Regions from separate parts of the Homo sapiens genome. Here all the other regions are linked to region 4. The links come from fine-mapping of genetic effects on gene expression. A gene starts in region 4. Each other region holds a variant in brackets. All regions are shown on one strand. Distances are from middle to middle. Region 1 overlaps LOC105369468 (a long non-coding RNA gene). Region 2 has its middle 81 kb from the start of GRIA4. Region 3 has its middle 10 kb from the start of CARD18. Region 4 holds the start of CASP1 (caspase 1).

The links. PIP is the estimated chance that this variant, and not a neighbour inherited with it, causes the effect.
Region 1: its variant is the best candidate, but not a certain one, in a credible set for the expression of CASP1 in whole blood (TOPMed, PIP 0.89).
Region 2: its variant is the best candidate, but not a certain one, in a credible set for the expression of CASP1 in pancreas (GTEx, PIP 0.55).
Region 3: its variant is the best candidate, but not a certain one, in a credible set for the expression of CASP1 in whole blood (TOPMed, PIP 0.82).

The regions. Positions count from the first base shown.
Region 1 is chr11:105,179,148-105,184,798 of GRCh38, forward strand. The region is part of intron 4 of LOC105369468 (a long non-coding RNA gene); the gene reads right to left. It overlaps LOC105369469 (a long non-coding RNA gene), which reads left to right. Exons shown (of 5, transcript XR_007062872.1): 3 at 4,223-4,374; 4 at 4,626-4,776; 5 at 5,554-5,651. Among named protein-coding and RNA genes, the nearest start is that of CARD18, 42 kb to the left of the region's middle. The variant A/G (reference allele first, on the strand shown) is at 2,589.
Region 2 is chr11:105,526,538-105,532,188 of GRCh38, forward strand. It overlaps a transcript of LOC105369468 not described here. Among named protein-coding and RNA genes, the nearest start is that of GRIA4, 81 kb to the right of the region's middle. The variant T/G (reference allele first, on the strand shown) is at 3,153.
Region 3 is chr11:105,147,157-105,152,807 of GRCh38, forward strand. No RefSeq gene overlaps it. Among named protein-coding and RNA genes, the nearest start is that of CARD18, 10 kb to the left of the region's middle. The variant T/C (reference allele first, on the strand shown) is at 2,745.
Region 4 is chr11:105,032,213-105,037,734 of GRCh38, forward strand. It overlaps CASP1 (caspase 1), which reads right to left and starts at 2,932. Exons shown (of 9, transcript NM_001257118.3): 1 at 2,895-2,932; 2 at 1,996-2,262; 3 at 852-914. The coding sequence starts at 2,901. LOC124902742 (a long non-coding RNA gene) reads left to right here. Exons shown (of 3, transcript XR_007062869.1): 3 at 3,429-3,469. RefSeq lists an enhancer at 3,011-3,060.

The sequences.
Region 1 (5,651 bases), 150 kb after region 4:
ACCTTTTCTAGAACTGGAGATGCATATTGTTATAGAACAGATTCATTTTTTTATCTCATTCCCCAGCATACGTTAATAAATATTTATTAATATATTATTTTCATACATGTCTAAAACAATATTAATTGTAACGGAATGGAAATTAGCTCTGCATATAAATAAAATTTTCTAGTATAATCTGGATATCTGATCAATATTTTGTCTCTCTACTGATCTCTCTATCTGAAATATATTTTTAAGCTTTTAGCCATAAAATGTTCTATCTGGTTGCACAGGCTTACAAGTATGTTTTTTTTAAAATAACTTTGCCTTAGACACAGTTCTATCATTTCAACCATTTGCTGCACCCATATACATAAGAATATTTTTCTGTTCAGATTAAACTAATAAAACTAAAAAGTGATATAAATACCATATGGTACACTCAGTGACATGCATGGTATTTTTAAAGGAAGGGATATGACACTTTGGGGGATTCCTCTTATGACTTCTAAAGATTATTCTAATGGTGTAGATATAGAATCCTCTGGTCAATTGGATAAATGCCAAGCATTTAAACTCTGCTTGCTAATATTTACATAGCTACCTTTCAGCCAGCGGGCCACTTGCTTTCCTTTTATGTATTGAGAACTAGAGCTGCCCTGTGTTCCCCTGAAATTGCGGAATAAACTTATTAAAATGAATGATAATGCATTCGCTGGTAAATTTCACAAAGTGTGAAGGACACAAATATATGAACAAAATAAAATTATGTATTATTGAGAAATGGTTTATATACTTCCAGAGATATATTGCTCCTGTACTTATGTAGAAGTAGAAATAAAGATTAGCTCTTTAACATATTAATTGATGTTTCCAGTTTGGGACCGTGAAACATCCCAGAAACAGCTGATTGCTTTTTTAAAAAAGTCCTCTGTCTTTGTTCAGCTAGTCCTACAATAGTAACTTACTCATAGTACACATTTATCATATGCTAGCAGTCTGTCCAGAATAACTTCGTTTGAAGAAAAGATAGGTCAAGTGCACATTCCAGGGAATATTTGCAAAATAATATGTATTTTCTTGCAAAATTTTAAACAATTAGCTCTTAAGGTCACTTTCATATCACCCAGCTCTGCTAGTTTTGTTCCCCTTCTAACATATTTTAAAAGTATGCTTGTTTTAAAAGTCAAATAAATAAGATCTATGATAAAAATACAAGATAATAGTTGTGACAAACTATTCTGAAGAAGTAAGTTTCTACTCTAGGTGCGGGCAAGATCCTTCTAATCAAAGAGGAGTTCTGTGTTTATCTCTTTTGAATAATTGTGCTTTAGTTTCTTCATTTATCTATCTATTATTACTGATTGCCTGGAAGTGTACAGAAAGTCATGTCAAGGACTAAAGCAAACTCCTCTCAAAATATTCTTCTTGAATAAACTAGATTTTAATATTAGTTAATATTTATGTGTACGATGTGTTAAGCATTTTAGTATGAGCTTGTTTCATGGCCAAAATAATACTGTGAGAGTATGAGATATCATGTCTTCATTGTAGAAATGGAAAAATTAATCTGTGAGCAAGGTTGTGCAGGTTTATTAAAGTTGAATAACCACCAATTGCTAGAGTGAGAATTAGAAATCAGGATTGTCGGCCGGGCGCGGTGGCTCACGCCTGTAATCCCAGCACTTTGGGAGGCCGAGGCGGGCGGATCACGAGGTCAGGAGATCGAGACCATCCCGGCTAAAACGGTGAAACCCCGTCTCTACTAAAAATACAAAAAATGAGCCGGGCGTAGTGGCGGGCGCCTGTAGTCCCAGCTACTCCGGAGGCTGAAGCAGGAGAATGGCGTGAACCCGGGAGGCGGAGCTTGCAGTGAGCCGAGATCCCGCCACTGCACTCCAGCCTGGGCGACAGAGCGAGACTCCGTCTCAAAAAAAAAAAAAAAAAAAAAAAAAAGAAATCAGGATTGTCTGAGTCCAGAGTCTATGATCTAAACCACTCATAAAGACTGCTTTTTTACACTTATATTTCCTTTCAATGGGTTATTAAAGTGAAAGCTAAGGTCTCACTAAACTATTGCTTAACAGATATTCTATTAAGATAATTCATAGCCTTTTACAAAGACAAGACTAAAATACGATTAGCAGAAAGTCTTCTGAACAACTTGGCCTTGAGCCAACCCAAGTTTCAGAGACAATGTGAATGATTCAGCCGGTGCCTTATAACTGAGATCCAGAAATAGCTCTGAATCCTACAAAGAACTAAAGAAGTATATTCTCTAGCAGACAATGAGCAATAATGAGCTTCTGATGAGCCATATATAAATTTTTAAAATATTACAATATTTTTAGCCTATTTTAAGATATAAACATGTTTCCAAAAATACAGATTGTGCTTCTGTTTATTGATTTATTATCATTTGGTGGTCTATTCAAAGATATTCACAGAGTCAATAAATTCTGATTATTTTTTCAAGTTAAAAAGCAAAGGGATTTTTTAGCAAAAACACAGCCTCCCAGAGTACAGGGAAATGATATTAAGATTACCTAATAGGGTTATTGAGGAAGTATGTGTTACAGAAACATGTACTTCTGCAATTCTTGAGC[A/G]AGAGCTACTGAAGCCAACCAACAAGAAACTCTTGTCAGGAACCTGGCATTATGTGAACTTATCCAGTATGCTTCTTGGAGATCACTTGACTCTAAATATAAGTGACAAACATCACCTTGTGTTTTCTGAGCAGGACGGAAAGGTGCAAGCTAAAATGTGTTGTTATGATGCTAGTTGGCTTTGAAATTACTTTTCAAACAAAGATCGCTTTTGATGAGACCTAATCTGATATTCATGCACAGAAAGTGAAGATATAGCAAGTATACTTAAAGAAAACCATGACTTAGAAAGCAGAACAGTTATATTTATGTTTGTAGAGACTAGGAGAGATAATTATCTTAGAAGTGATTTAAATGCACAGAAAGTAAGTGCCCAATTTCCAAAGAAGAATTAGAGATCTCTAAAGCCTTTATTAGAAAATCCTTGTGTTCTTTTTATGAAATGTCAGTGAAATGAGAGATTGTCATGACGTTAAACCAGAATAAGAATTTAAGGAATGGAGAAAAGCAATGATGAAAAAAAGTATGTATCAACGTTTGATCTGAAATTTTCCTCTTCTTTGGAAAATGTCAAATTTTATGTGCATATTACTTGAGCTGAAATGTAAAATCTTAAGGTTTATGCTGAAGCTTCCTATGACTCTAATGAAAATTTAGAATGTGAATAAGAACTTTTTAGAAATACTTTCTATTGTTATAGCTTCAATAAATTCTAAAAATTGTTTTTACATAACATCCATGGCAAGAAAAAATGTCTATACTAATCATAACATTCTTCTTCCATACTTCAGTATGAGAATACAACCATATTATTTTCTAATATTAAGGTCTATTTATTGATCCTCAGCAGCATTATTACAGTTTTCTAATCTTTATTAAAATCACCCTGTGCACAAAAACTGTTCTGACATTTAACTAATTTCCAAACATCTTAAACCATTCAAATATAGTGTCCATTGAGTATAATTTGACTTTTACAAAACTCAGTTGAAAATTCCTTGTTTGCCTATTTGTTTTACTTGTTTACATTTGTTTTTCTATCATATGCTATATTTTCTCTATTGTGTAAACCAGGGAACAGAGTTTGCAGACTTTGGTTACCACACGCATACCTAGGATCCAACACAATAGCATTTCTGAATTTATACCAGAATCAATACACTAAAAAGTATCTAGTGCACAGTAGGCACTCAATAAATGCTTGTGAAAATGGAAAAATATTTACATATAAATTTAGCAGTTAAGGTAGAAACTTATTAATTAGTGAAGTTCTCAATTCTTCAGATAATTTTGGAAGGGTATTGTCAAGTGATTTATCCTGATTTTATTCTCCTTGCAATCATTTCTCCCTATTCTCCAGTTCTAGGATTCACATAATTTCTCTCTGACACAAATCTGTCCTTTTAGCTCATCACATATTTTTCAAATAAGTTGTAAATCATTTTACTTATTTTATTGTCTGTCAATTTATTTCTCTAGTAGTCTCAATTTTTTTACTTGGCCTCACTGTGCACATACATAACAGCACATTCTCAACCCCTATCCCTGCTTAAAAAAACTGGTTACAGTGTGATTTGGATTTGAAGCAGTGGATAATATACATGCAACCGAAACATTTTTCCTTTTCCTTCTAGCTACAGTAAAGTCAAGGTCTATACACCAAAGATAGAAAAAATGAGAAAAATAAATGGAAAGAATGAAGCAAAAAGAGAGCCATGAAAGATACAAAGAGATGTATTTAGAAAGTAGAAGGATCAAGACACTGTGTGCCTCAGAAAAAAAGAAGGTAAGCAGCAGTCGACTATATTTTTTAATTGAGATTTTCTTATCTAATTGGAATTATCCATGTAAGGAAACGAATCAGGAACTTGGTTGCCAGATGCAGAGAAGTAGATAAGATTTTCCTCTAGCTATATGCTTGTGCTTTTGGCCTGATTAGCAGCGGATTGAATGATGGCCCTCCTCAAAAGGTATGTTCATATTCTAATCCCTGAAAAATGTAAATGTGACCTTGTTTAGAAAAAATCTTCTTTGCAGATATAATTAAGCTAAAGATTTTGAGATGGAATAATTCAGAGGAGGAGAAGATATGAAGCAGAAGAGAAGAATCCCATGTGAAGAAGGGTACAATGATTGAAGTTACACAGGCGCAAGTTGAAAAGGCTGAAGCCATCAGAATGTGGAAGAGGTAAGGAAGGATTCTACCCTACAGCCTTCAAAGGGAGCATGACTTTGCTGACACCTTGATTTTGGACTTCTGGCCTTGAGAACTGTAATATAATAAATTTCTGTTGTTTTAAGCTATCAAGTTTATTGCTATTTGTTAAGAGAGCAGTAGGAAACTAACAGTATGTATATTCCTTCTTTAGTGACAGTTACGAAGTAAAAAAAAAACAAGAGAATATGGAAACTGCTATATACTAATGATTTTTTTCTGCCCATATCCATCTGAAGCAGTTCCTATTTTTGAAGGTTCCTTTCCCTAACACACACACACACACACACACACACTACCACCACCACCACCACACCAGAATTAAATAAAATACCACACAATGAAAGAGACTAGAGGTTGAGAGGGCTTCTATAATTTAAAATGTGGACATTGCAGCATCATCTTTGAACCCACTTGATATATACCAATTCAAAATGGAAAATTGTTGAAAACCTATTGTGCTACGTTAAATGTAAAAGACCATTTATGAATGATGCATGGGTTCTCCATACAGTAAAGCAAGTCACTTCATATATTTCTGCTTGGAAAGGAAACAGAACACCATTAATGCTACAAAAAATGAGATGGTGATAAATAATGCTTGAGATACTCTTTGGTCCATCAGCTGCTTTCAAGAAAGTAGAAATGATTGCAAAGTTTAGTATGAGCTTGACAAAATATATATACAGATTACATTTTCTTAAGTTAATAAACTTGGAGTTCTTATTTTTCTTCTAATTCTATGTGCAGGTTCATCCAGAATCAGCTTGGCTATAGCTGGAAGCAATTAAGAATATGCACAAGGGCCAGGAGCGGTGGCTCATGCCTGTAATCCCAACACTTTGGGA
Region 2 (5,651 bases), 490 kb after region 4:
GACATTCACAGATTGTAGCTGCAATGTCCCTTAATTCCATAAGTGTCCTTAAGACTTGGGAGAACCTTCATATATTTTTCCCTCACCCTAGAGTTTTGAGACCAATTCTGGTGCTTATTCTCTTTCTCTGGACAATGAACATATCTGTGATACCATTTGCTGTCCTCATCTGCTAGATACCCCATACAGACAGTCCCTATATCCAGAAAATAGACCAAAAACTCCCATATATTAATATAATCTATATAATTGTATATAATATAAAATAGACTAAACCTCCATAAGTTATTAATATAATATATAATTATATATAAATATTAATATAATATATAATTATACATATAATCATTAATATAATTTATAGGAGTTTTTGGTCTATTTTCTGGAAATAGGGACTGTCTATATGGGGCAATCTAGCAGGAAAAAATGTAAATCAGGAAAAAATTGAATAAATGTCTTGAAAATGTACTTCAAAAGAGAATATTCAAATGAAGCATGTGAAGATATGTTCAATATTTAGTTATCAGAAAAATGCAAGTTAAAATCACAATGAGACACCATTACATATTTAGTGCCATTTCTTTAAAAAATGAAAAAGTTATTACATATGTAAAGCATCTAGCCTTTTTTTTGTTGTTGTTGCTGTTAAACATTAGCCCTTTTTTTTTTTTTACTTTTATCTTGAGCTTCAGGGCACATGTGCAGATTTGTTATATGGGTAAATTGCATGTTGTGGGGATGTGGTGTACAGATTATTTTGTAACCCCGGCAATAAACATAGTACCCAACAGGTAGTAATAAGCATATTACCCAATAGGTATTAATAAGCATATTACCCAATAGGTAGTTTTTGGATCCTCACCTTCCTCCCAATTTCCCCCTCTTGTGGGCCCTGGTGTCTATATTCTCTTCTTTTTGTCCACATGTACTAGATAATTAGCTTCCACTTATAAGTGAGAACATGCAGTATTTGGTTTTCTGTTCCTGTGTTAGTTCACTTAGGATAATGGCCTCCAATTCTCTCCATGTTGCTGCAAAGGATGTGATCTCATTATTTTTTATGGCTGTGTAGTATTCAATGGTGCATATGTTTCTTTATGCAGTCTAGCACTGATGGGCAGTTAGGTAGATTCCATGTCTTCACTATTGTGAACAGTGCTGCAATGAACATATGTGTGCAAGTGTCTTTATGGTAGAATGACTTATATTCCACTGGATATATATCCAGTAATGAGATTGCTACATTGAATGGTAATTGTATCTTAAGTTCTTTCAGAAATCTCCAAACTGCTTTCCACAATGGCTGAACTAATTTATATTCCCACCAGTAGTGTTATGTTTTCTTTTCTCTGCAGCCTCACCAGCATCTGTTATTTTTTTACTTTTTAATAATAGCCATTCCGACTGCTGTGAGATGGTATCTCATGGATTTTATTTGCATTTATTTCTCTAATGATTAGTGATGTTGACCTTTTTTTCCTATGATTGTTAGCCACCTAAATGTCTTTTTTTGAACAGTGTCTGTTCATGTCCTTTACCCACTTTGTAAGGGGATTGGTTGTTTTTTGCTTATAAATTTGTTTAAGTTGCTTAAAGGTGCTGAACATTAGACCTCTGTAGGATACATAGTTTGTAAGTATTTTCTCCCATTACGTAGGTTGTCTGTTTACTTGGTCGATATTTTGCTGAACAGAAGCTCTTTAGTTTAATTAGGACCCATTTGTCAATTTTTCGTTGTAATTGCTTTTGACATCTTCATCATAAAATCTTTGACCAGTCATATGTCCAAAATGGTATTTCCTAGGTTATCTTCAGGGTTTTTATAGTTTTAGATTTTACATTTCAGTCTTTAATCCACCTTGTGTTGATTTTTGTATACTGTGTAAGGAAGGGGCCAAGTTTCAATCTTCTGCAAATGACTAGCCAGTTATCCCAGCACTATTTATTGAACAGGGAGTTCTTTCCCCATTGCTTGTTTTTGTAAACTTTGTCGAAGATCAGATGGTTGAAGGTATGTGGCATTATTTCTGGGCTCTCTATTCTGCTCCACTGGTCTATGTGTCTGTTTCTGTACTAGTACCATACTGTTTTGGTTACTGTAGTCTTGTAGTGTAGTCTGAAGCCAGGTGATGCCTATAGCTTTGTTCTTTTTGCTTAGGATTGCATTGGTTATTTGAGCTTTTATCTTATTTTTGTTTCATATAAACTTTAGAATAGTTTTTTTTCAAATTATAAAGAGAATGTCATTGTAGTTTGATAGGAATAGCATTGACTCTGTAAACTGCTTTGGGCAGTATGGCCATTTTAATGATATTGAATCTTCCTCTCCACGAGCATGGAATGTTTTTCCATTTGTTTGCATCATCTCTGGTTTCTCTGAACAGTGTTGTTTTTAATTCTTATTGTAGAAATCTTTCACTTCCTTGATTATCTGTATTTCTAGGTATTTTATTATTTTTGTGGCAATTATGAATGGGATCACATTCCTGATTTGGCTCTCAGCTTGGATGTTGTTGGTGTATAGGAATGCTATGGATTTTTGTTCATTGATTTTGTATCCTGTAACTTTGCTGAAGTTGTTTATCAGATCAAGGAACTTTTGAGCAGAGAATATGGTGTTTTCTACATATAGAATCATACGGTCTACAAACATAGATAGTTTGACTTTCTGTCTTCCTATTTGACTGCCTTTTATTTCTTTCTCTTGCCTGATCACTCTAGCTAGGACTTCCAGTACTATGTTGATCAAGAATGATGAGAGAGGGCATTCCTGTATTATTCCAGTTTTCAAGGTTAATGCTTTTGCTCATTCAGTATGATGTTGGCTGTGGGTTCCTCATAGATGGCTCTTACTATTTTAAAGTGTGTTCCTTCAATGCCTAGTGCGTTGAGGGTTTTTAATATGAAGACGTGTTTAACTTTATCAAAAGATTTTTCTGCATCCATTGAAATAATCATGTGGTTTTGTTTTTAGTTCCCCTTATGTGATGAATCACATTTATTGGTTTTAATATGTTGAAGCAACCTAGCCTCCCTGAGATAAAGCCTACTTGATCATGATGAATTAGCTTTTTGATGTGCTGCTGAATTCAATTTGCTAGTATTTTGTTGAGGATTTTTGCATCTGTGTTCATCATGGACATTGGCAAATA[T/G]CCGTATGATCTTTGACAAAGCTGGCAAAACAAGCAATGAGGAAAGGACTCCCTATTCAATAAATGGTACTGGGATAACTGGCAAGCCATATGCAGAAGATTGAAACTGGAACCCTTCCTTATACCACATATTCAAGATGGATTAAAGACTTAAATGTAAAACCTAAAACTATAAAAACTCTGGAAGATAACCAAGGCCTCTCTTTTATAGGTGAAAATACAAGTTAGTATTACCACTCTTGAACTTTTGCACAATATGAATTATGTACAAATATATGCATAAACCATAACCCTGTAATTTTTATTTCTTTATCTATTCAAGTATCTACCCATCCAAGCACATGTATAAAAATGATAAGGTCTGTATTATCCATAATACCTTAAATTTCCATCATGAGAATAATGGATAAATAACTGTTGCGCAGTCATGAAATGAAATGCTACAGACTAATGATCTTCAAAGTGTGGTCCCTGGGCCAGCAGCATCAGTACTACCTGAGAACCTGTTAGAATTGCAAATTGATGGGCCCACTCCAGATCTACTGGTTTGGAGATTCTGGTTTGGAGAGTCTGGAGGGGGGTCCTCTAGATTTCTCTGTTTAGCAAAACTTCCAGATAATTCTGATGCATAATTAGGTGGACACGCACTGCTTTCTATGCAAAAAAATGAATATATATAAAAAAATCTGCTCTCCGCCATACCATGAATAAATTTGTGGTTAGATTCTAAGAGGAAGTATAAGAGAGATTCTGGCGTAATTTTCTATTTGGATGCTAGTTACAAGTTTACTCTGACCAAAATTCATAAATATATTCACATATAATTTGCCCATTTTGTATTTGTATCGTACTGAAATAATGTAAAAACATAGTGTACTCCAATCAAACTCAGCTGCTTTGATATTGCATGCTCAATAATGGGTGTTTATTTTCTCTCTTAAATTGGGTATTATACTCTGCAGGCAGGATAAAATGTATTTGTTTCAAGAAAAAAGACTATTTACTTTAAGAAAATGTATCCAGTCAACCTATTATATTTTGAGTGCATGTTTGTGTATATGCTATGCTTTAATGAAAACTTTACTGAAAAATTAAGTAAATATTTTTCCTTGGCAATCATCCATGTCAATATTGTTCATCAGATGGTACTGATGTTTTTATTTGTTGATTACTGCCATGTGGTAGGCATTTCACATACCACTTTACTAAATCCTGCTACCAAATAAATGGTATTCCTATTTTGGAGACAAAAAGTGCTGAGGCCTGGGGAAACTGTATAATGTCCTCAGAATAGTAAGTGGAAAAATTCAAGATTGGAAACTCAAGTCTGTCTAACTCCAAGTTCATGATCTTTCTACAGTATCATGTGGCCATATAACAGACGCAGAGACTGGTATTTTCCCAGTAGGTGCACAAAATAATTACTAAATCTATCCAGGATAAGATGGTAGAAGAGGCAAATGAGGTTGATGCTGCTGGGAATATCATACATTCTCCAGAAACTAGCCCATATTTATAGATTATCATGTTTAGAAGGCATCTTCAATATCATGAATTAAAATATATTCCCTTTGAAATCAATTCCATAGACTAGGAACTCAGTTTTTCACAAACTATCTCTTTTCATTACAATTTTCTTTATTAGATAATATTTTCTTGTATTGAGGCCAAACACTGTACAAATACATCACAAATTAGTACATATACAAAAGGAAGCTTGTGCAGAACATAAATTTGTACAAATATTATAAAAATACAGTGTGCTTTATACCAATGGTCCCAATTCTGCCTATTTTAGACATATAGGGAAACATAGTTCCATAAAACAGAATATCAAATATTTAAAGTAAACCACTATTTTGTTCTTTGAGTCTACTTTCTCCTTGTTTCTTCCAACTGTTTTTAATATTACCTGATTTCTGAGTCACTTCATCATCCTGATCTTTCCCCTCTGACTGGTTCAATTTGTTCATGTGTCCTTTCAAGAATGGTTTTACTTAGGTGTTTTCTAAAAAGGAAAGTAGAACAGGAACACTTCATTTATCTTGTTCCAAACCTCAAGTTCCTATCATTACACCGCAGAGTTCCAAGAACTAGAAGCAAAGGAATTACCCTTTTTTGTTTAAAATGTTCTTGGGTTTGGATCAGGTCCTTGTGAGAGCTTAGGCTGAGGCAATATTTTCACAATTTTTATTATAAAGTATAAAAATTTATCATCCTTAGTTGCCCAAAGCAGCTGTTATCATAATCAAAGGAATAACCCAAGATAATTTATCTTAGAGTCCTATAAACAGAATGTCTGGCAACTAATGTGCATATACTTTGAAACTGTGTGAACTAGACACATGGTTTTTCCCTGTTTAAGCCTTAACTTCTTTACTAATGGAAATGGGTTGTATGAATTAAGTGAAATAAAATCAGGAAAGTAATAGAATTCAATACATATTAGATCCATTTCCCCTTTCCATAGCTCCCTAAAAGACACAAAAATGCAGGGCT
Region 3 (5,651 bases), 120 kb after region 4:
GGAGTTACTTTATGAGTTGTGTGATGAAGAGCGATCCATGTGCACTTCTCCAGAAAATGTTATTTTTGAATAAAGGAAATAATAAATCCTAAATAAAGAAAATAATAAATGCTTTATCCTTTTTTTAAAAAAAAGTCGAAGATTGTAAATAACAAATTAAATCAAGTAGGAAAAATAAAGGCTCAAATTTCTTTGTCCATATAAAAAGAGTAACATGATGGGCTTAGATTATTATAAAAGACACATGCAAAGGTTGTAGCATCACGGGTGAAGGAATAGGGCTCTAGAATCATAGTTCTGTAATTCAGAAGGCAAAACTATTATTTTATATTTGATACTATGTCATGTTTCCTAGAAAATATTATTTTATTTGATCTTCAAAATTTACTCAAGGCAGAACAGCTGCAAAGTGATACAGTAGCAACTGAACCCACATTTGTGCTGAAGATTCTTCTATACCTTCCTACAGATGCCCTTTTCTGATAACAGACCAGCCAGTAGGTAACACTGAGGATGCTTTACCTCAGTTAACATTGACTGGTCCATTTCCCATAGCAGTCATGGACAGAGACTACATTTGCTAAGGCACATTGGGGCTAAATATTAAATATGTCTACATGTCTAGACAAAATAATTAAATAAATAATATATTAAATAAGAATAAGGTTTTGCTTGAGCATTTTAGAAATTCTGTCTGCTCTGCCCAGGCCTTGAACACCACTTGAAATACTCTACTCTCTACTATACTATCTCCTTTTAAAAATTATATTACCTTAAATAAGATGATTTGGGGAATTGGTCTTTTATATATAGTGCTATGTATATATATATTTCAATTTTTTACCCATTTAATACATATGATACTTGTATGATGTGGATAATATTATTAATCTCATTTTACAGATAAGAAAAATGAAGCACAGAGCTTGAACACCTTCCCAATGTCACAAAGCAAGGAAGTGGCAGAGCCAGAATTCAAATCCAGGTGGCCCAGCTGCAGAATCTGGTTCTTCATCATTATTCCAGACCGTCTCTCAGAACCTGGTTGTAGAAAAGATGACAGGTGTCCGGCAAATTAAACTCTTACTAGAGCTTGATACAGTCTATTGATCGTTAGCGTTAGCTTAGTGTTATTATCTTATACAGCCCTGAAAACAGGTTCTGTGCCACATGTTTCCTTTTGTATTTTTTATACTGCACCCTCACAAGTGAGCTAGATAGCAAAGGCAAGTAATAGCTTCTTCACCTCATGAATAATGAGCCTGCATACTTGCCAAGAGATGAGATGAATCAGAATGAGAGTCCAGTTTTTCTCATCCCTAGGCCAGCTCTCTCTAGTATCACAAGCCATCTTTCTTGTGAGCATTGCGCCAAGTCTTCTGAGAAGACAAGAAAGGTAATATTGACGGGAGAGGGAGGTCTGCTTTCAAAACGCTAAGTGTAGACTGAAGGACAAAAGCATAAACACAGGGGAAAATATATGACAACAAAAGAGAAGTCGAAAATCCTCTAAAGGGCAAGACAAGCTAAGAGTGCTATAAATGGACTTTAGAAAAACATGGATTTAAAAGTGCTCAGGGATTTAAAGAATGACAGGGTTTTGAACACACAAATGAAGAACAAAGGGGACTATATTTAAGGAGAGCCTACTGTGTGCCAGGCATTGTGGTGAGTGCTTTATGTACAATGGGCATTGTTCACTCAGCACCACAGTGAAGAAGATGTTAGTGCTATATTCCCATTTTACAGATGGCAAACTGGCCTCACCCACATTAAAACTCCTGCATGAGGTCACATTGTTAATCTCCAGTGGATATCAAACTTAAGTTCACTCTTCCAATTGCAAAACCCAAGCTATTTCATGTGCAAATACAAGAGACGGAAAGACATTTCATGCCTATAGAATGGCATAAAAATTGAAAGCACAGAAATCGGAATGCAAACCATAAAAACAAAATTATCTAGATAAATTGGTTTCTTTACAAGGCACTTATCACTAACTGATACTTTCTTTCATTTATTTATTTGTTATCTATCTAGTTCTACAAAATGGGCTTCTAGAAATAACAACTTGTCCATCTTCTTTGCTTCAATACCCACATCACCTAAAACAATGGTCACATCACATTAAACAAATGTCATCAGTATATATTGTAAAATATAAATGATTTAGAGTGAAAGGAAGAATATATATCAAATACAGCAAATGTATAAATGAAAATTAATTTAGAAAAATATTTGATAATATAGGACAATCAGTTTAAAATGTGAAATTAAATGGAGATAAATGTCAAAGAATATGAATTACTGAGTTAATCATAACACATTTCTTCATTTATTTTCATCCATTAAATACTTATTTATTGAGTATCTAATAAATATCAGGTAACTGAATTAGAATATAAGGATTTATTAGTAAAACAAAAATACAGTATTAACCTTGTCCATAAGGACTTTTGCTGACTAATAGAGAATGTGGCCATGTGAGTTAGTAATTAAACCACAATTGAAGTTACAAAATTAAAGTCTGCATGGCTGGGAGGTAATGCATGTAATCCATTGCTCCTCTACTAGATGAACAGGTCTGGCAATAGCTTATTTCAGAGAACAAAAGCCTCAGGTTATTTCATTCTTTCATAAGTTTAATGTGGACCAGAACAATTTTAGATTGTATACATCTTAATTCACTCAAAAATATTTATTTTGACACTACTAATTACATATTATACTCAGTGAGAATAGTA[T/C]AAGTCAATAAGAACATAGAGTCTTGACTTCATAAAGCTTACATTCCAGTAGAGAAGAGGGACTTAATAAGTCCACAGACCAATAAATAAAATACTTGCAAGTCATAATGCATACCATGAAGAACACATATGTGGACAGGTGGGTTAATTTACTACTGCTTTTATAACACATTATCACAAATGTAGTGACTTGACACAACACAAATTTATTAGCTTATAGTTTTGGAAGTCAGAGTCTGAAATGGGTTTCACTGGGCTCATATGAAGGTGTTGGCAGGGCTGTGTTACTTCTGGAGGCTCTAGGGGACAATTCTTTCTCTTACATTTCCTGGTTTTTAGAGGCTACCCAAATTTTTTAGCTCATGGCTCTGTGTCATCCTGATCTATGCTTCTGTTTTCACATCTTCTTCTTTACTCTTTTGCTGCCATCCTTCCCTTATAAAGACTGTTGGGATTAAATTCAGTGCATCTGGATGATGCAGGGTATTCTCTCTATCTCAAGAGATTTCATCATATCTGCAGTTTCTTTTGCCATGTAAGGTAATGTATTCACAGGTGCAGGTAATTAGGACATGGACAGGTCTGAGAGTCCATTATTCTGCCTACCATGGAGGTAATGTTGAGAAACAAGGCACTTGGGGCAGCAGAATTTCCATAAGAAAGTTCTCACTGAGTTGGTGATGCTATGTATTCTATAAAACAATTAAAGGGAAAACACCATTTCACTAATTCTGGGACTACCTAAATCATATCTAGAACATTTTCTTTTATTTTTGGATGTCAATTTTAAATAATTTTTGGCAAACTACAGAATATACAATTTTCAAATCTGAAAAATGAAGACATAAGGAAATTGCAATATGTGATAGAATAAGGTGACTTTGAGCCCATTTTAGAGTGGATTATAAGTTTAAAAGTATGTAATTATGTTATGATTATTGTCATCATTATTTTCAGCATGGAAGAAAAGAACTGCCTACATAAATTCAAATATAGTAAGTAATAGTGTTGGAATCTTAAATACGATGCGAAAATACAATTGCAAATTCATAATACCTCCAGTTTTAACAAAATATATATTTCCTATCTTTGTGAAAAAGGCCTAGAGTTATAACAGTCTAGTAGCAATAATCACCTCTAGTTTCCAATATAATTTCTAAAAACTATTTACCACTAAAGAAGGTAAGGGCTTCTTGGAGAAGTAGCTGATCCAAGGCAGGGGTCAGAAAATTTATGACATAAAGGTAGAATGTTTTCTTGAACCAGAAAGCAAGGAAGCTCTCATGGGTCATGCTATAGAGGCAAAAGAGCCAAAGTGAAGGACTTCCACTGAGCAAGATGGGGAAATTTTAACTTCAGAAAGAATGTCTTTAAATGATTATTAAAACACATAGGGTATATTAAAAGCAGTGAGTATGAACTAAGTTTCTTAGAGAGTATGAGAAACAAAACAAAACTCTTGAGAACCAGTAAAAGTTGCCAGGGCACCAATTAATTGATAATTAAAGTGAAATAATTAAGTCTTTATCTCGATCTTTTCATGTGAATTATATTTCTGAATTTGATAATTAAAGTGAAATGATTAAGTCTTTATCTTGATCTTCTCATGTGAATTGTGTTTCAGGCTAACAAAATTAGGAGCTAGTACATAAGGGAAAAATTCTTGTATTAAGAAGTCTAGTTAATTAATAAATGGATAAAAAATTAGAAAAAAACTATAATCTCACAGGTTGTAATGACAGATATGATCATGACAATGGCAATCAGTGAGTGGTAAAATCATTAGTAAAGGTTGACCAGGACCTTTATAAAGAAAGGATCAAGCTGAACCCACAGATTATTTCTTGTATCATTAAAGCTGAGACATTTCAGGTGTTATGTACCTTCTAGTATTCTACAGTATGAAGTAATCAGCATCACCTAAGAAGTAGTCTTGCAAAATAAAATTAGCCTGAATCTAATCACAATTTTAGAAGTAACTTTCAGGCCAGGCGCGGTGGCTCACACCTGTAATCCCAACACTCTGGGAGGCCAAGTCAGGTGGATCACCTGAAGCCAGGAATTCGAGACCAGCATGTCTCGATACAGTAAGCCAAGATAAATATATTACAAAGACAGAAAAGTATTTTTTAATAAATTTGGTATTGTCTAAGTGTATGTTTATAAAGTTTGTAGTAGTTTACGGTAATGTCCTAGGACTTCACATTCACTCATTACTCATTCTCTCACTGACTCACACAGAGCAACTTCCCGTCCTGAAAAGTTCATTTATCGTAAGTACCCTGTAAAGATGTACCATTTTTTATCTTTTATACCATGTTTTACTGTACGTTTTATATGTTTAGATACACAAACACTTACCATTGTGTTATAGTTAACTGCAGCATTCAATACAGTAACATGCTATACAGGTTTATGGCCTAGGAGCAATAGGCGATACTGTACAATGTAGGTGTGTAGTAGGCTATGCACTCCATAATACTTGCACAATAATGAAATTGCCTAATGACACATTTCTCAAACATATCCCTGTCATTAAGTGATGCATGGCTTTGTAAAGGAACGATTGAATAAATAAATAAATGACAGAAAAGTTCAATGCCCCTTTTAGAAAAACACAAATAGTATATGTAATTAGTCCTTTCTCAGCACACTTCTCCTTTGTGTTCTCTTTCCTCAAAATTCACAATCTAAATATGAGGAAGCATCAGACAAACTTTGATGAGAGACATTCTACAAAAATCCTCTTCTAAAATGTCAAGGTCATAAAAATCAAGGAGATACAGAAAAACTGTCACAGACCAAAGACTGAGATATGACAACAAGGGGCAGTGTGGCATCCTGGATTGGGAGTGGACACTGATAAATCACGTGGTGCTGAGGGTAGCATGACTCAAATTCTAAATC
Region 4 (5,522 bases):
ATTAGAATAGATATATTGGAAAAAATTATAGAATAATCATTTGTTGGATAAAATGTTGGATTTCTTCATAAAGAAGTGTGAAAACAATAGAAAAAAACTAGAAGTAGTTAGGTTATTTTTGAGCTATTTTTTCATAGTAGAGAATACAGTATTTCTTTATATATTGAATATCCCATGCTGTGAAACATTTAAGAAAATATTCATGATACCCAACCTTAATAAATTCAGTAGAGTAATATCTGAACTTGATAAATAATTTGCATTCCTAGCCTCTACATTGCTTTCAGATATAAGTTTAAGAGTGCACTATGGGAATAGGGGTTCTTTAATAAAATAATAGAAGTAGAAATAGAGAGATGGTTCCAAATTTGAGAAAAGCCTGCATAAAACTTGGCCATGGGTTGAATGTTAGAGGTGCATGAGAAGGAAGGGTCCCATATGAGTTTCAAGTTCCTGGTTTGAACAACTGGTGACGGTGGCACCAATAACCAAGTTACACAAAACCGGAAGAGAAGCAGGGTGTGGAAGTATAGCATTTTCAGCTCTGGGAAAGTTTAGAATAAGGTGTCTCTGGGAGATGGGAGTGAATATTTCAGTAGGCTTAAATAATGAAGTTTGGTACTTATTTGGGTAATCAGGATTTGAGACACAGATTCAGAATTTTTAATATAAATGTGGATAATGAAGCTGTGGAAACAGTTTCTACAAAAGCAGAATAGATTACAAAAAGAAAATTATATGACCAATCTATGAGAATTCTCCATAGCCCATTTACCCACGTTTGATCCTACAAAATTAATGTCAAGGAAGATGTGGGTCAAAGAATGCTCTTCCTTTAAAAACAGCATTACCTGGAAAGGAAGAAAGTACTCCTTGAGAGTCTTGCATATTAAGGTAATTTCCAGATGTTTGATCTATGAAAAGATAAAGGGTATTGAAGTAGTCACTTATCATCTCTGGAAAACTTTACCCCAATCTGTAAAACACTCCCCACTAAAAATTTCTCCCATAACACTGACTGACTGACTGACATTAAATAATGTTAAAGATGTTCTTTAATTTAGAGAGTGGTGGGAGGTAGAAAATGAAAGAGGCATTGGTAGAAAAATACGTGTTTATTACACATAGATGAAAACAGAAACATCTGCAATGTCTGCTTAGACAGGCATAAGCTTTCCCTAACCCTTAGAACAGAAGGCTTTTGCTTTCAAAGAACATCTCCCTCTGAAGTGGCTTTAGGAAGTGCCACAGACATCAATGACTGGGAATCCACCAGAACTCTCATCCTCACCACGTGGTAGGTCCAAGTGGTCATGAGATTTGGCCAGCTCAGTTCCTGAGCCCTGTATTGGGCCTGAGGAGGGTTGCAAGTGGAGGATTTCCAGGCCTCACAGCATGACCCACAGCCTGGTAACAGGCAACCAGGTGATCTTACTCAAAGAAAATACAAGGAGGCAACTGGAGGAATGAGCCCATTAGAAATCTTCACTTTTCTATACGTTCAATGTGTTCTCTGAGTGTATCGCCATCATTGAAATATATTTTATTCTTTTGGGAGGGTAAAATTTTGGAGAAAAGTTATAAAAAGTATTTGATTATAAACCTTAAAGCTTCATGTGACTTTACAACTACATAAGTGCCTACAGACCCCTTGCACTCAGCAAAAATAAATCCACAGGTAAATATTTTGCCTTGCCAGGAACACTGGAAAACACAGCATGAAGCTTTTCAGATGGTTCTCAAGAGCTTCAGTAAAGGAGCTACCACATACTCAGAACAGGAAATGAGCTTTAATCAGAAGAGTGCCACTGAGGATTAAGGAAAAGAATCAAAGGAGAGTCAAGGGACATGCAATAGGGACCCTGCTACAGAAATATGGCCCTGAAGCCAGAAATAAGAAAGTTTTCTTCCAATTAACATGACTAGTAAAGAAATCAAATGTTAGGCACGAAGACAGGCCCTAGGTGAACTTGAGTGTAAGTCACTGACCCTTACCTGCTGAGAGTCCCAGCGTCCCTGCCAGGTAACTGTCTTCTTCACAAATGTATGTGATGCAAATTTGGCATGCCTGTGCCCCTTTCGGAATAACGGAGTCAATCAAAGCTCGGGTCTTATCCATAACTGTAGCATTTTCACGTTTTACTTTCTCCATCTCTTCCTTGTTCAGCACCCTTGTCTGTAATAATTCATCCAGTAAGCCATTTATTGTACCTTCACCCATGGAACGGATAAACAGCTTTCTCTTCTCCTTCAGGACCTTGTCTGTTTAGAGCACAAGGATTTCTCACATCATGAAAACAGCCTCATATTCCTCTCATGTAATCAACAGAAAGTGACCTCATTTAGATTTCATCAGTGAAATGTCCCCCTCCTCACAGTTGGGTAATCCCTCTTCTTACTGTATTGCTGTCCTACTTGTTTCCCTCAATAGTCTCCATACATGTGCATGGAGTGACCTGAAGACTGAGTTTACCATTTCCACATCAGTCCCTGGAAAGCAGAGATCATCCTCTTATGTCGCATGTTTATTTAACTCTGGTTAATAAAGTAATGAAGCAGAAATAGCCCATTTCATTTAGGAACCACTGCTGCTAGTACTCCTCCTGTGCCAATTCTGTACCCTCTGTCAGACTTTCAACATGTAAGTAAGAGTTTAATTAAGATTGCAAAATGACATCAGGCTTCCCCTAAAGCCTCAGTTCCTTTCTGGGCTTGCCTTTCCTTTCTAAAGTCTGCAAGAATCTTCTAGTTCCTTCTCTCCTCCCTCTCCCCCCTTTTCCTTGCTTCTACTCAAGTAAACTTCCACAGATGCTAATTATGGCTTCCAGAAGAGCCAGCCCCTTCCAAAACTCTTTCTTCCCAGGGACCTGTTCTTGGAACAGTAAAAGACTCACCGGCCATGGCTTTTCTCTCCTCCCTTCTTGTGTGACTGAAACTGAAAGTATGCTTCGCCTTCCTTTTTGGCAGGGCCTGTACATGTATTGGGAAATACTCACTGTGCATGCATATGCATGTCTTTATTTTTCTTCCCATTAAAGAATCAGAACTGTAGCCTGCATCAGGTAGTGTATCCATGGGAAATTTTCTTCACCAGCCCTTGGATAGATCAGGGTAGGAGGGGAATGGGGCTTGGAGAGTAAGACAGGATTGAAAAAGTATGTGTACAATTAAATTCACACAGTGAAGAGTTTCTCAATCATTAGAAAGCTTGACGGAGAAAAGTAACACAACCTTTGGAGTATGTGAACCACTGTTCCCCTGACCCCACCTCATAGCTCTTGGGAAAGTTGTGGGTAATGTATGTCCCTGTGAAACATTTTTGCTTTAAGAAATAGAAACATTTTTCACCAGAATTAAAGCTTTTCTTATTTAATGTCCTTCTTTTCACATTGCTTTTTTCTTTCTGTTTTTTTTTTTTTCTGATACAGGGTATCATTCTGTCGTGCAGGCCGGAATGCAGTTATTTGACCTTGGCTCACTGCAGCCTCCACTTCCCAGGCTCAGATGATTCTTCCAACTCAGCCTCCCGAGTAGCTGCAATTACTGGCACATGCCACCATGGCCAGCTAATATTTGTATCTCTTGTAAAGACAGGGTCTCCTTGTGTTTCCTAGGCTTGTCTTCAGCTCCCAGGCTCAAGCAATGTGCCCACCTTGGTCTCCCAAATTGCTAGGATTACAGGCATGAGCCACCCACCCATCCTGGAGGGTTTATTTTTGAGGGAAATTGCATTGTAGAGGCCCAGAGCATAGGCTCTGGAATGAGAATGTCGAACTTAGCATTTTAAACTTCCCTTCCTTGGCAAGATAATGAACTTCCCTATGCATTGGTTCCTCTGTATGTGAAATAATTTTATTAATAGTATGTACCTACACAGTTTTGAGCATTAAGTGAGAGAAAATGTGGAAAATGCATGGAACATAGCCTGGCAAATGGTAAGCAAATAATGAGTGATATTATTATAATTAATACAAATGTTTAAGGTTAGAAAAATAATCAAGGATGATTATTTGCAGATTATTTAGCTAAGTTTATCTTTTGTTAGAATCCTCAAGCAGTGCATCTAGTCATTCATTTAGCAAACATATACGGACGACATTGCTCTAGGTGCCAGAGGTTCAGTCAAAACATATCATGGTCCTTTCCCCTTTGGTCTCACATTCAAGAGGGAAAGACAAACATGAAGGCTGGTGATATGGTCTGTCTCTGTTTCCCTACTCAAATCTCACCTTGAATTGTAATAATCCTCATGTGTTATGGGAGGTATCTGGTGGGATGTAATTGAATCATGGGTGCTGTTTTTTTTCCATGCTGTTCTCTTGATAATGAATGTCTCATGAGATCCGATGGTTTTATAAAAGGGAATTCCTCTGCTCATACCCTCTTGCCTGCACCCATGTAAGACGTGTCCTTGCTCCTCTTTTGCCTTTTGCTATGATTCTGAGGCCTCCCCAGCCATGTGGAACTGTGAGTCTATTAAATATCTTTTTTGTTCTATATAATTACCCAGCCTTGAGTATGTCTTTATTAGCAGTGTGAGAAATGACTAATGCAGTAAATTTATACTGAGTAATGGAGTGCTGCTGTAAAGATCTCCAAAAATGTGGAAGCGATGTTGGAACTGGGTAAAATGCAGAGGTTGGAACAGTTCTTAGGGCTTAGAGAAAGATAGGAAAATAGAATCTGGAACTTTCTAGAGACTTGTTGAATGGCTTTGACTAAATGCTGCTCATCTCGAATGAAGATAGGAACTTGTTGGGAAGTGGAATAAAAGTGACTGTTGCTGCGTTTTAGTGAAGAGAGTGGTGGCATCTTGCCCCTGCCCTAGAGATCTGTGGAACTTTGAACTTGAGAGAGATGATTTAGGGCATCTGGCAGAAGAAATTTCTAAGCAGCAAAGCATTCCAGAAGTGATTTGGGTGCTGTTAAAAGCATTCATTTTTATGTATTTGCAAAGATATGGTTTGGAATTGGAACTTATGTTTAAAAGGGAAGCAGAGCATAAAAGTTTGAAACATTCGCAGCCAGATGATGTGCTGGGAAAGCAAAACCCACTTTCTAAGGAGAAATTCAAGCCAACTGTAGAAATTTGCAGAAGTAACGAGGAGCCAAATGTTAATCTCTAAGACATTAATCTCCAAGACAATGGGGAATATGTCTCCAGAGTATGTCAGAGACCTTCCAGGCAGCCCCTCCTATCACAGGACTGGAGACCTAAGAGGGAAAAAAATGTTTTCATGAGGTAAGCCGAGGGCCCTTCTGCTGTATGCAGCCTAAAGGCTTAGTGCCCTTCTTCCCGGGCCACTGAAGCCATGGCTAAAAGGGGCCAAGAAATAGCTTGGGCTGTGACTTCAAAGGGTGCAAGCCCCAAGCCTTGGCAGCTTCCATGTGGTGTGGAGCCTGTAGGGGCACAGAAGTCAAGAATTGAGGTTTGGGAACCTCTGTCTAGATTTCAGAGGATGTATGGAAATGCTTGTATGTCCAGGCAGAAGTTTGCTGCAGGGGTGGGACCCTCATGAAGA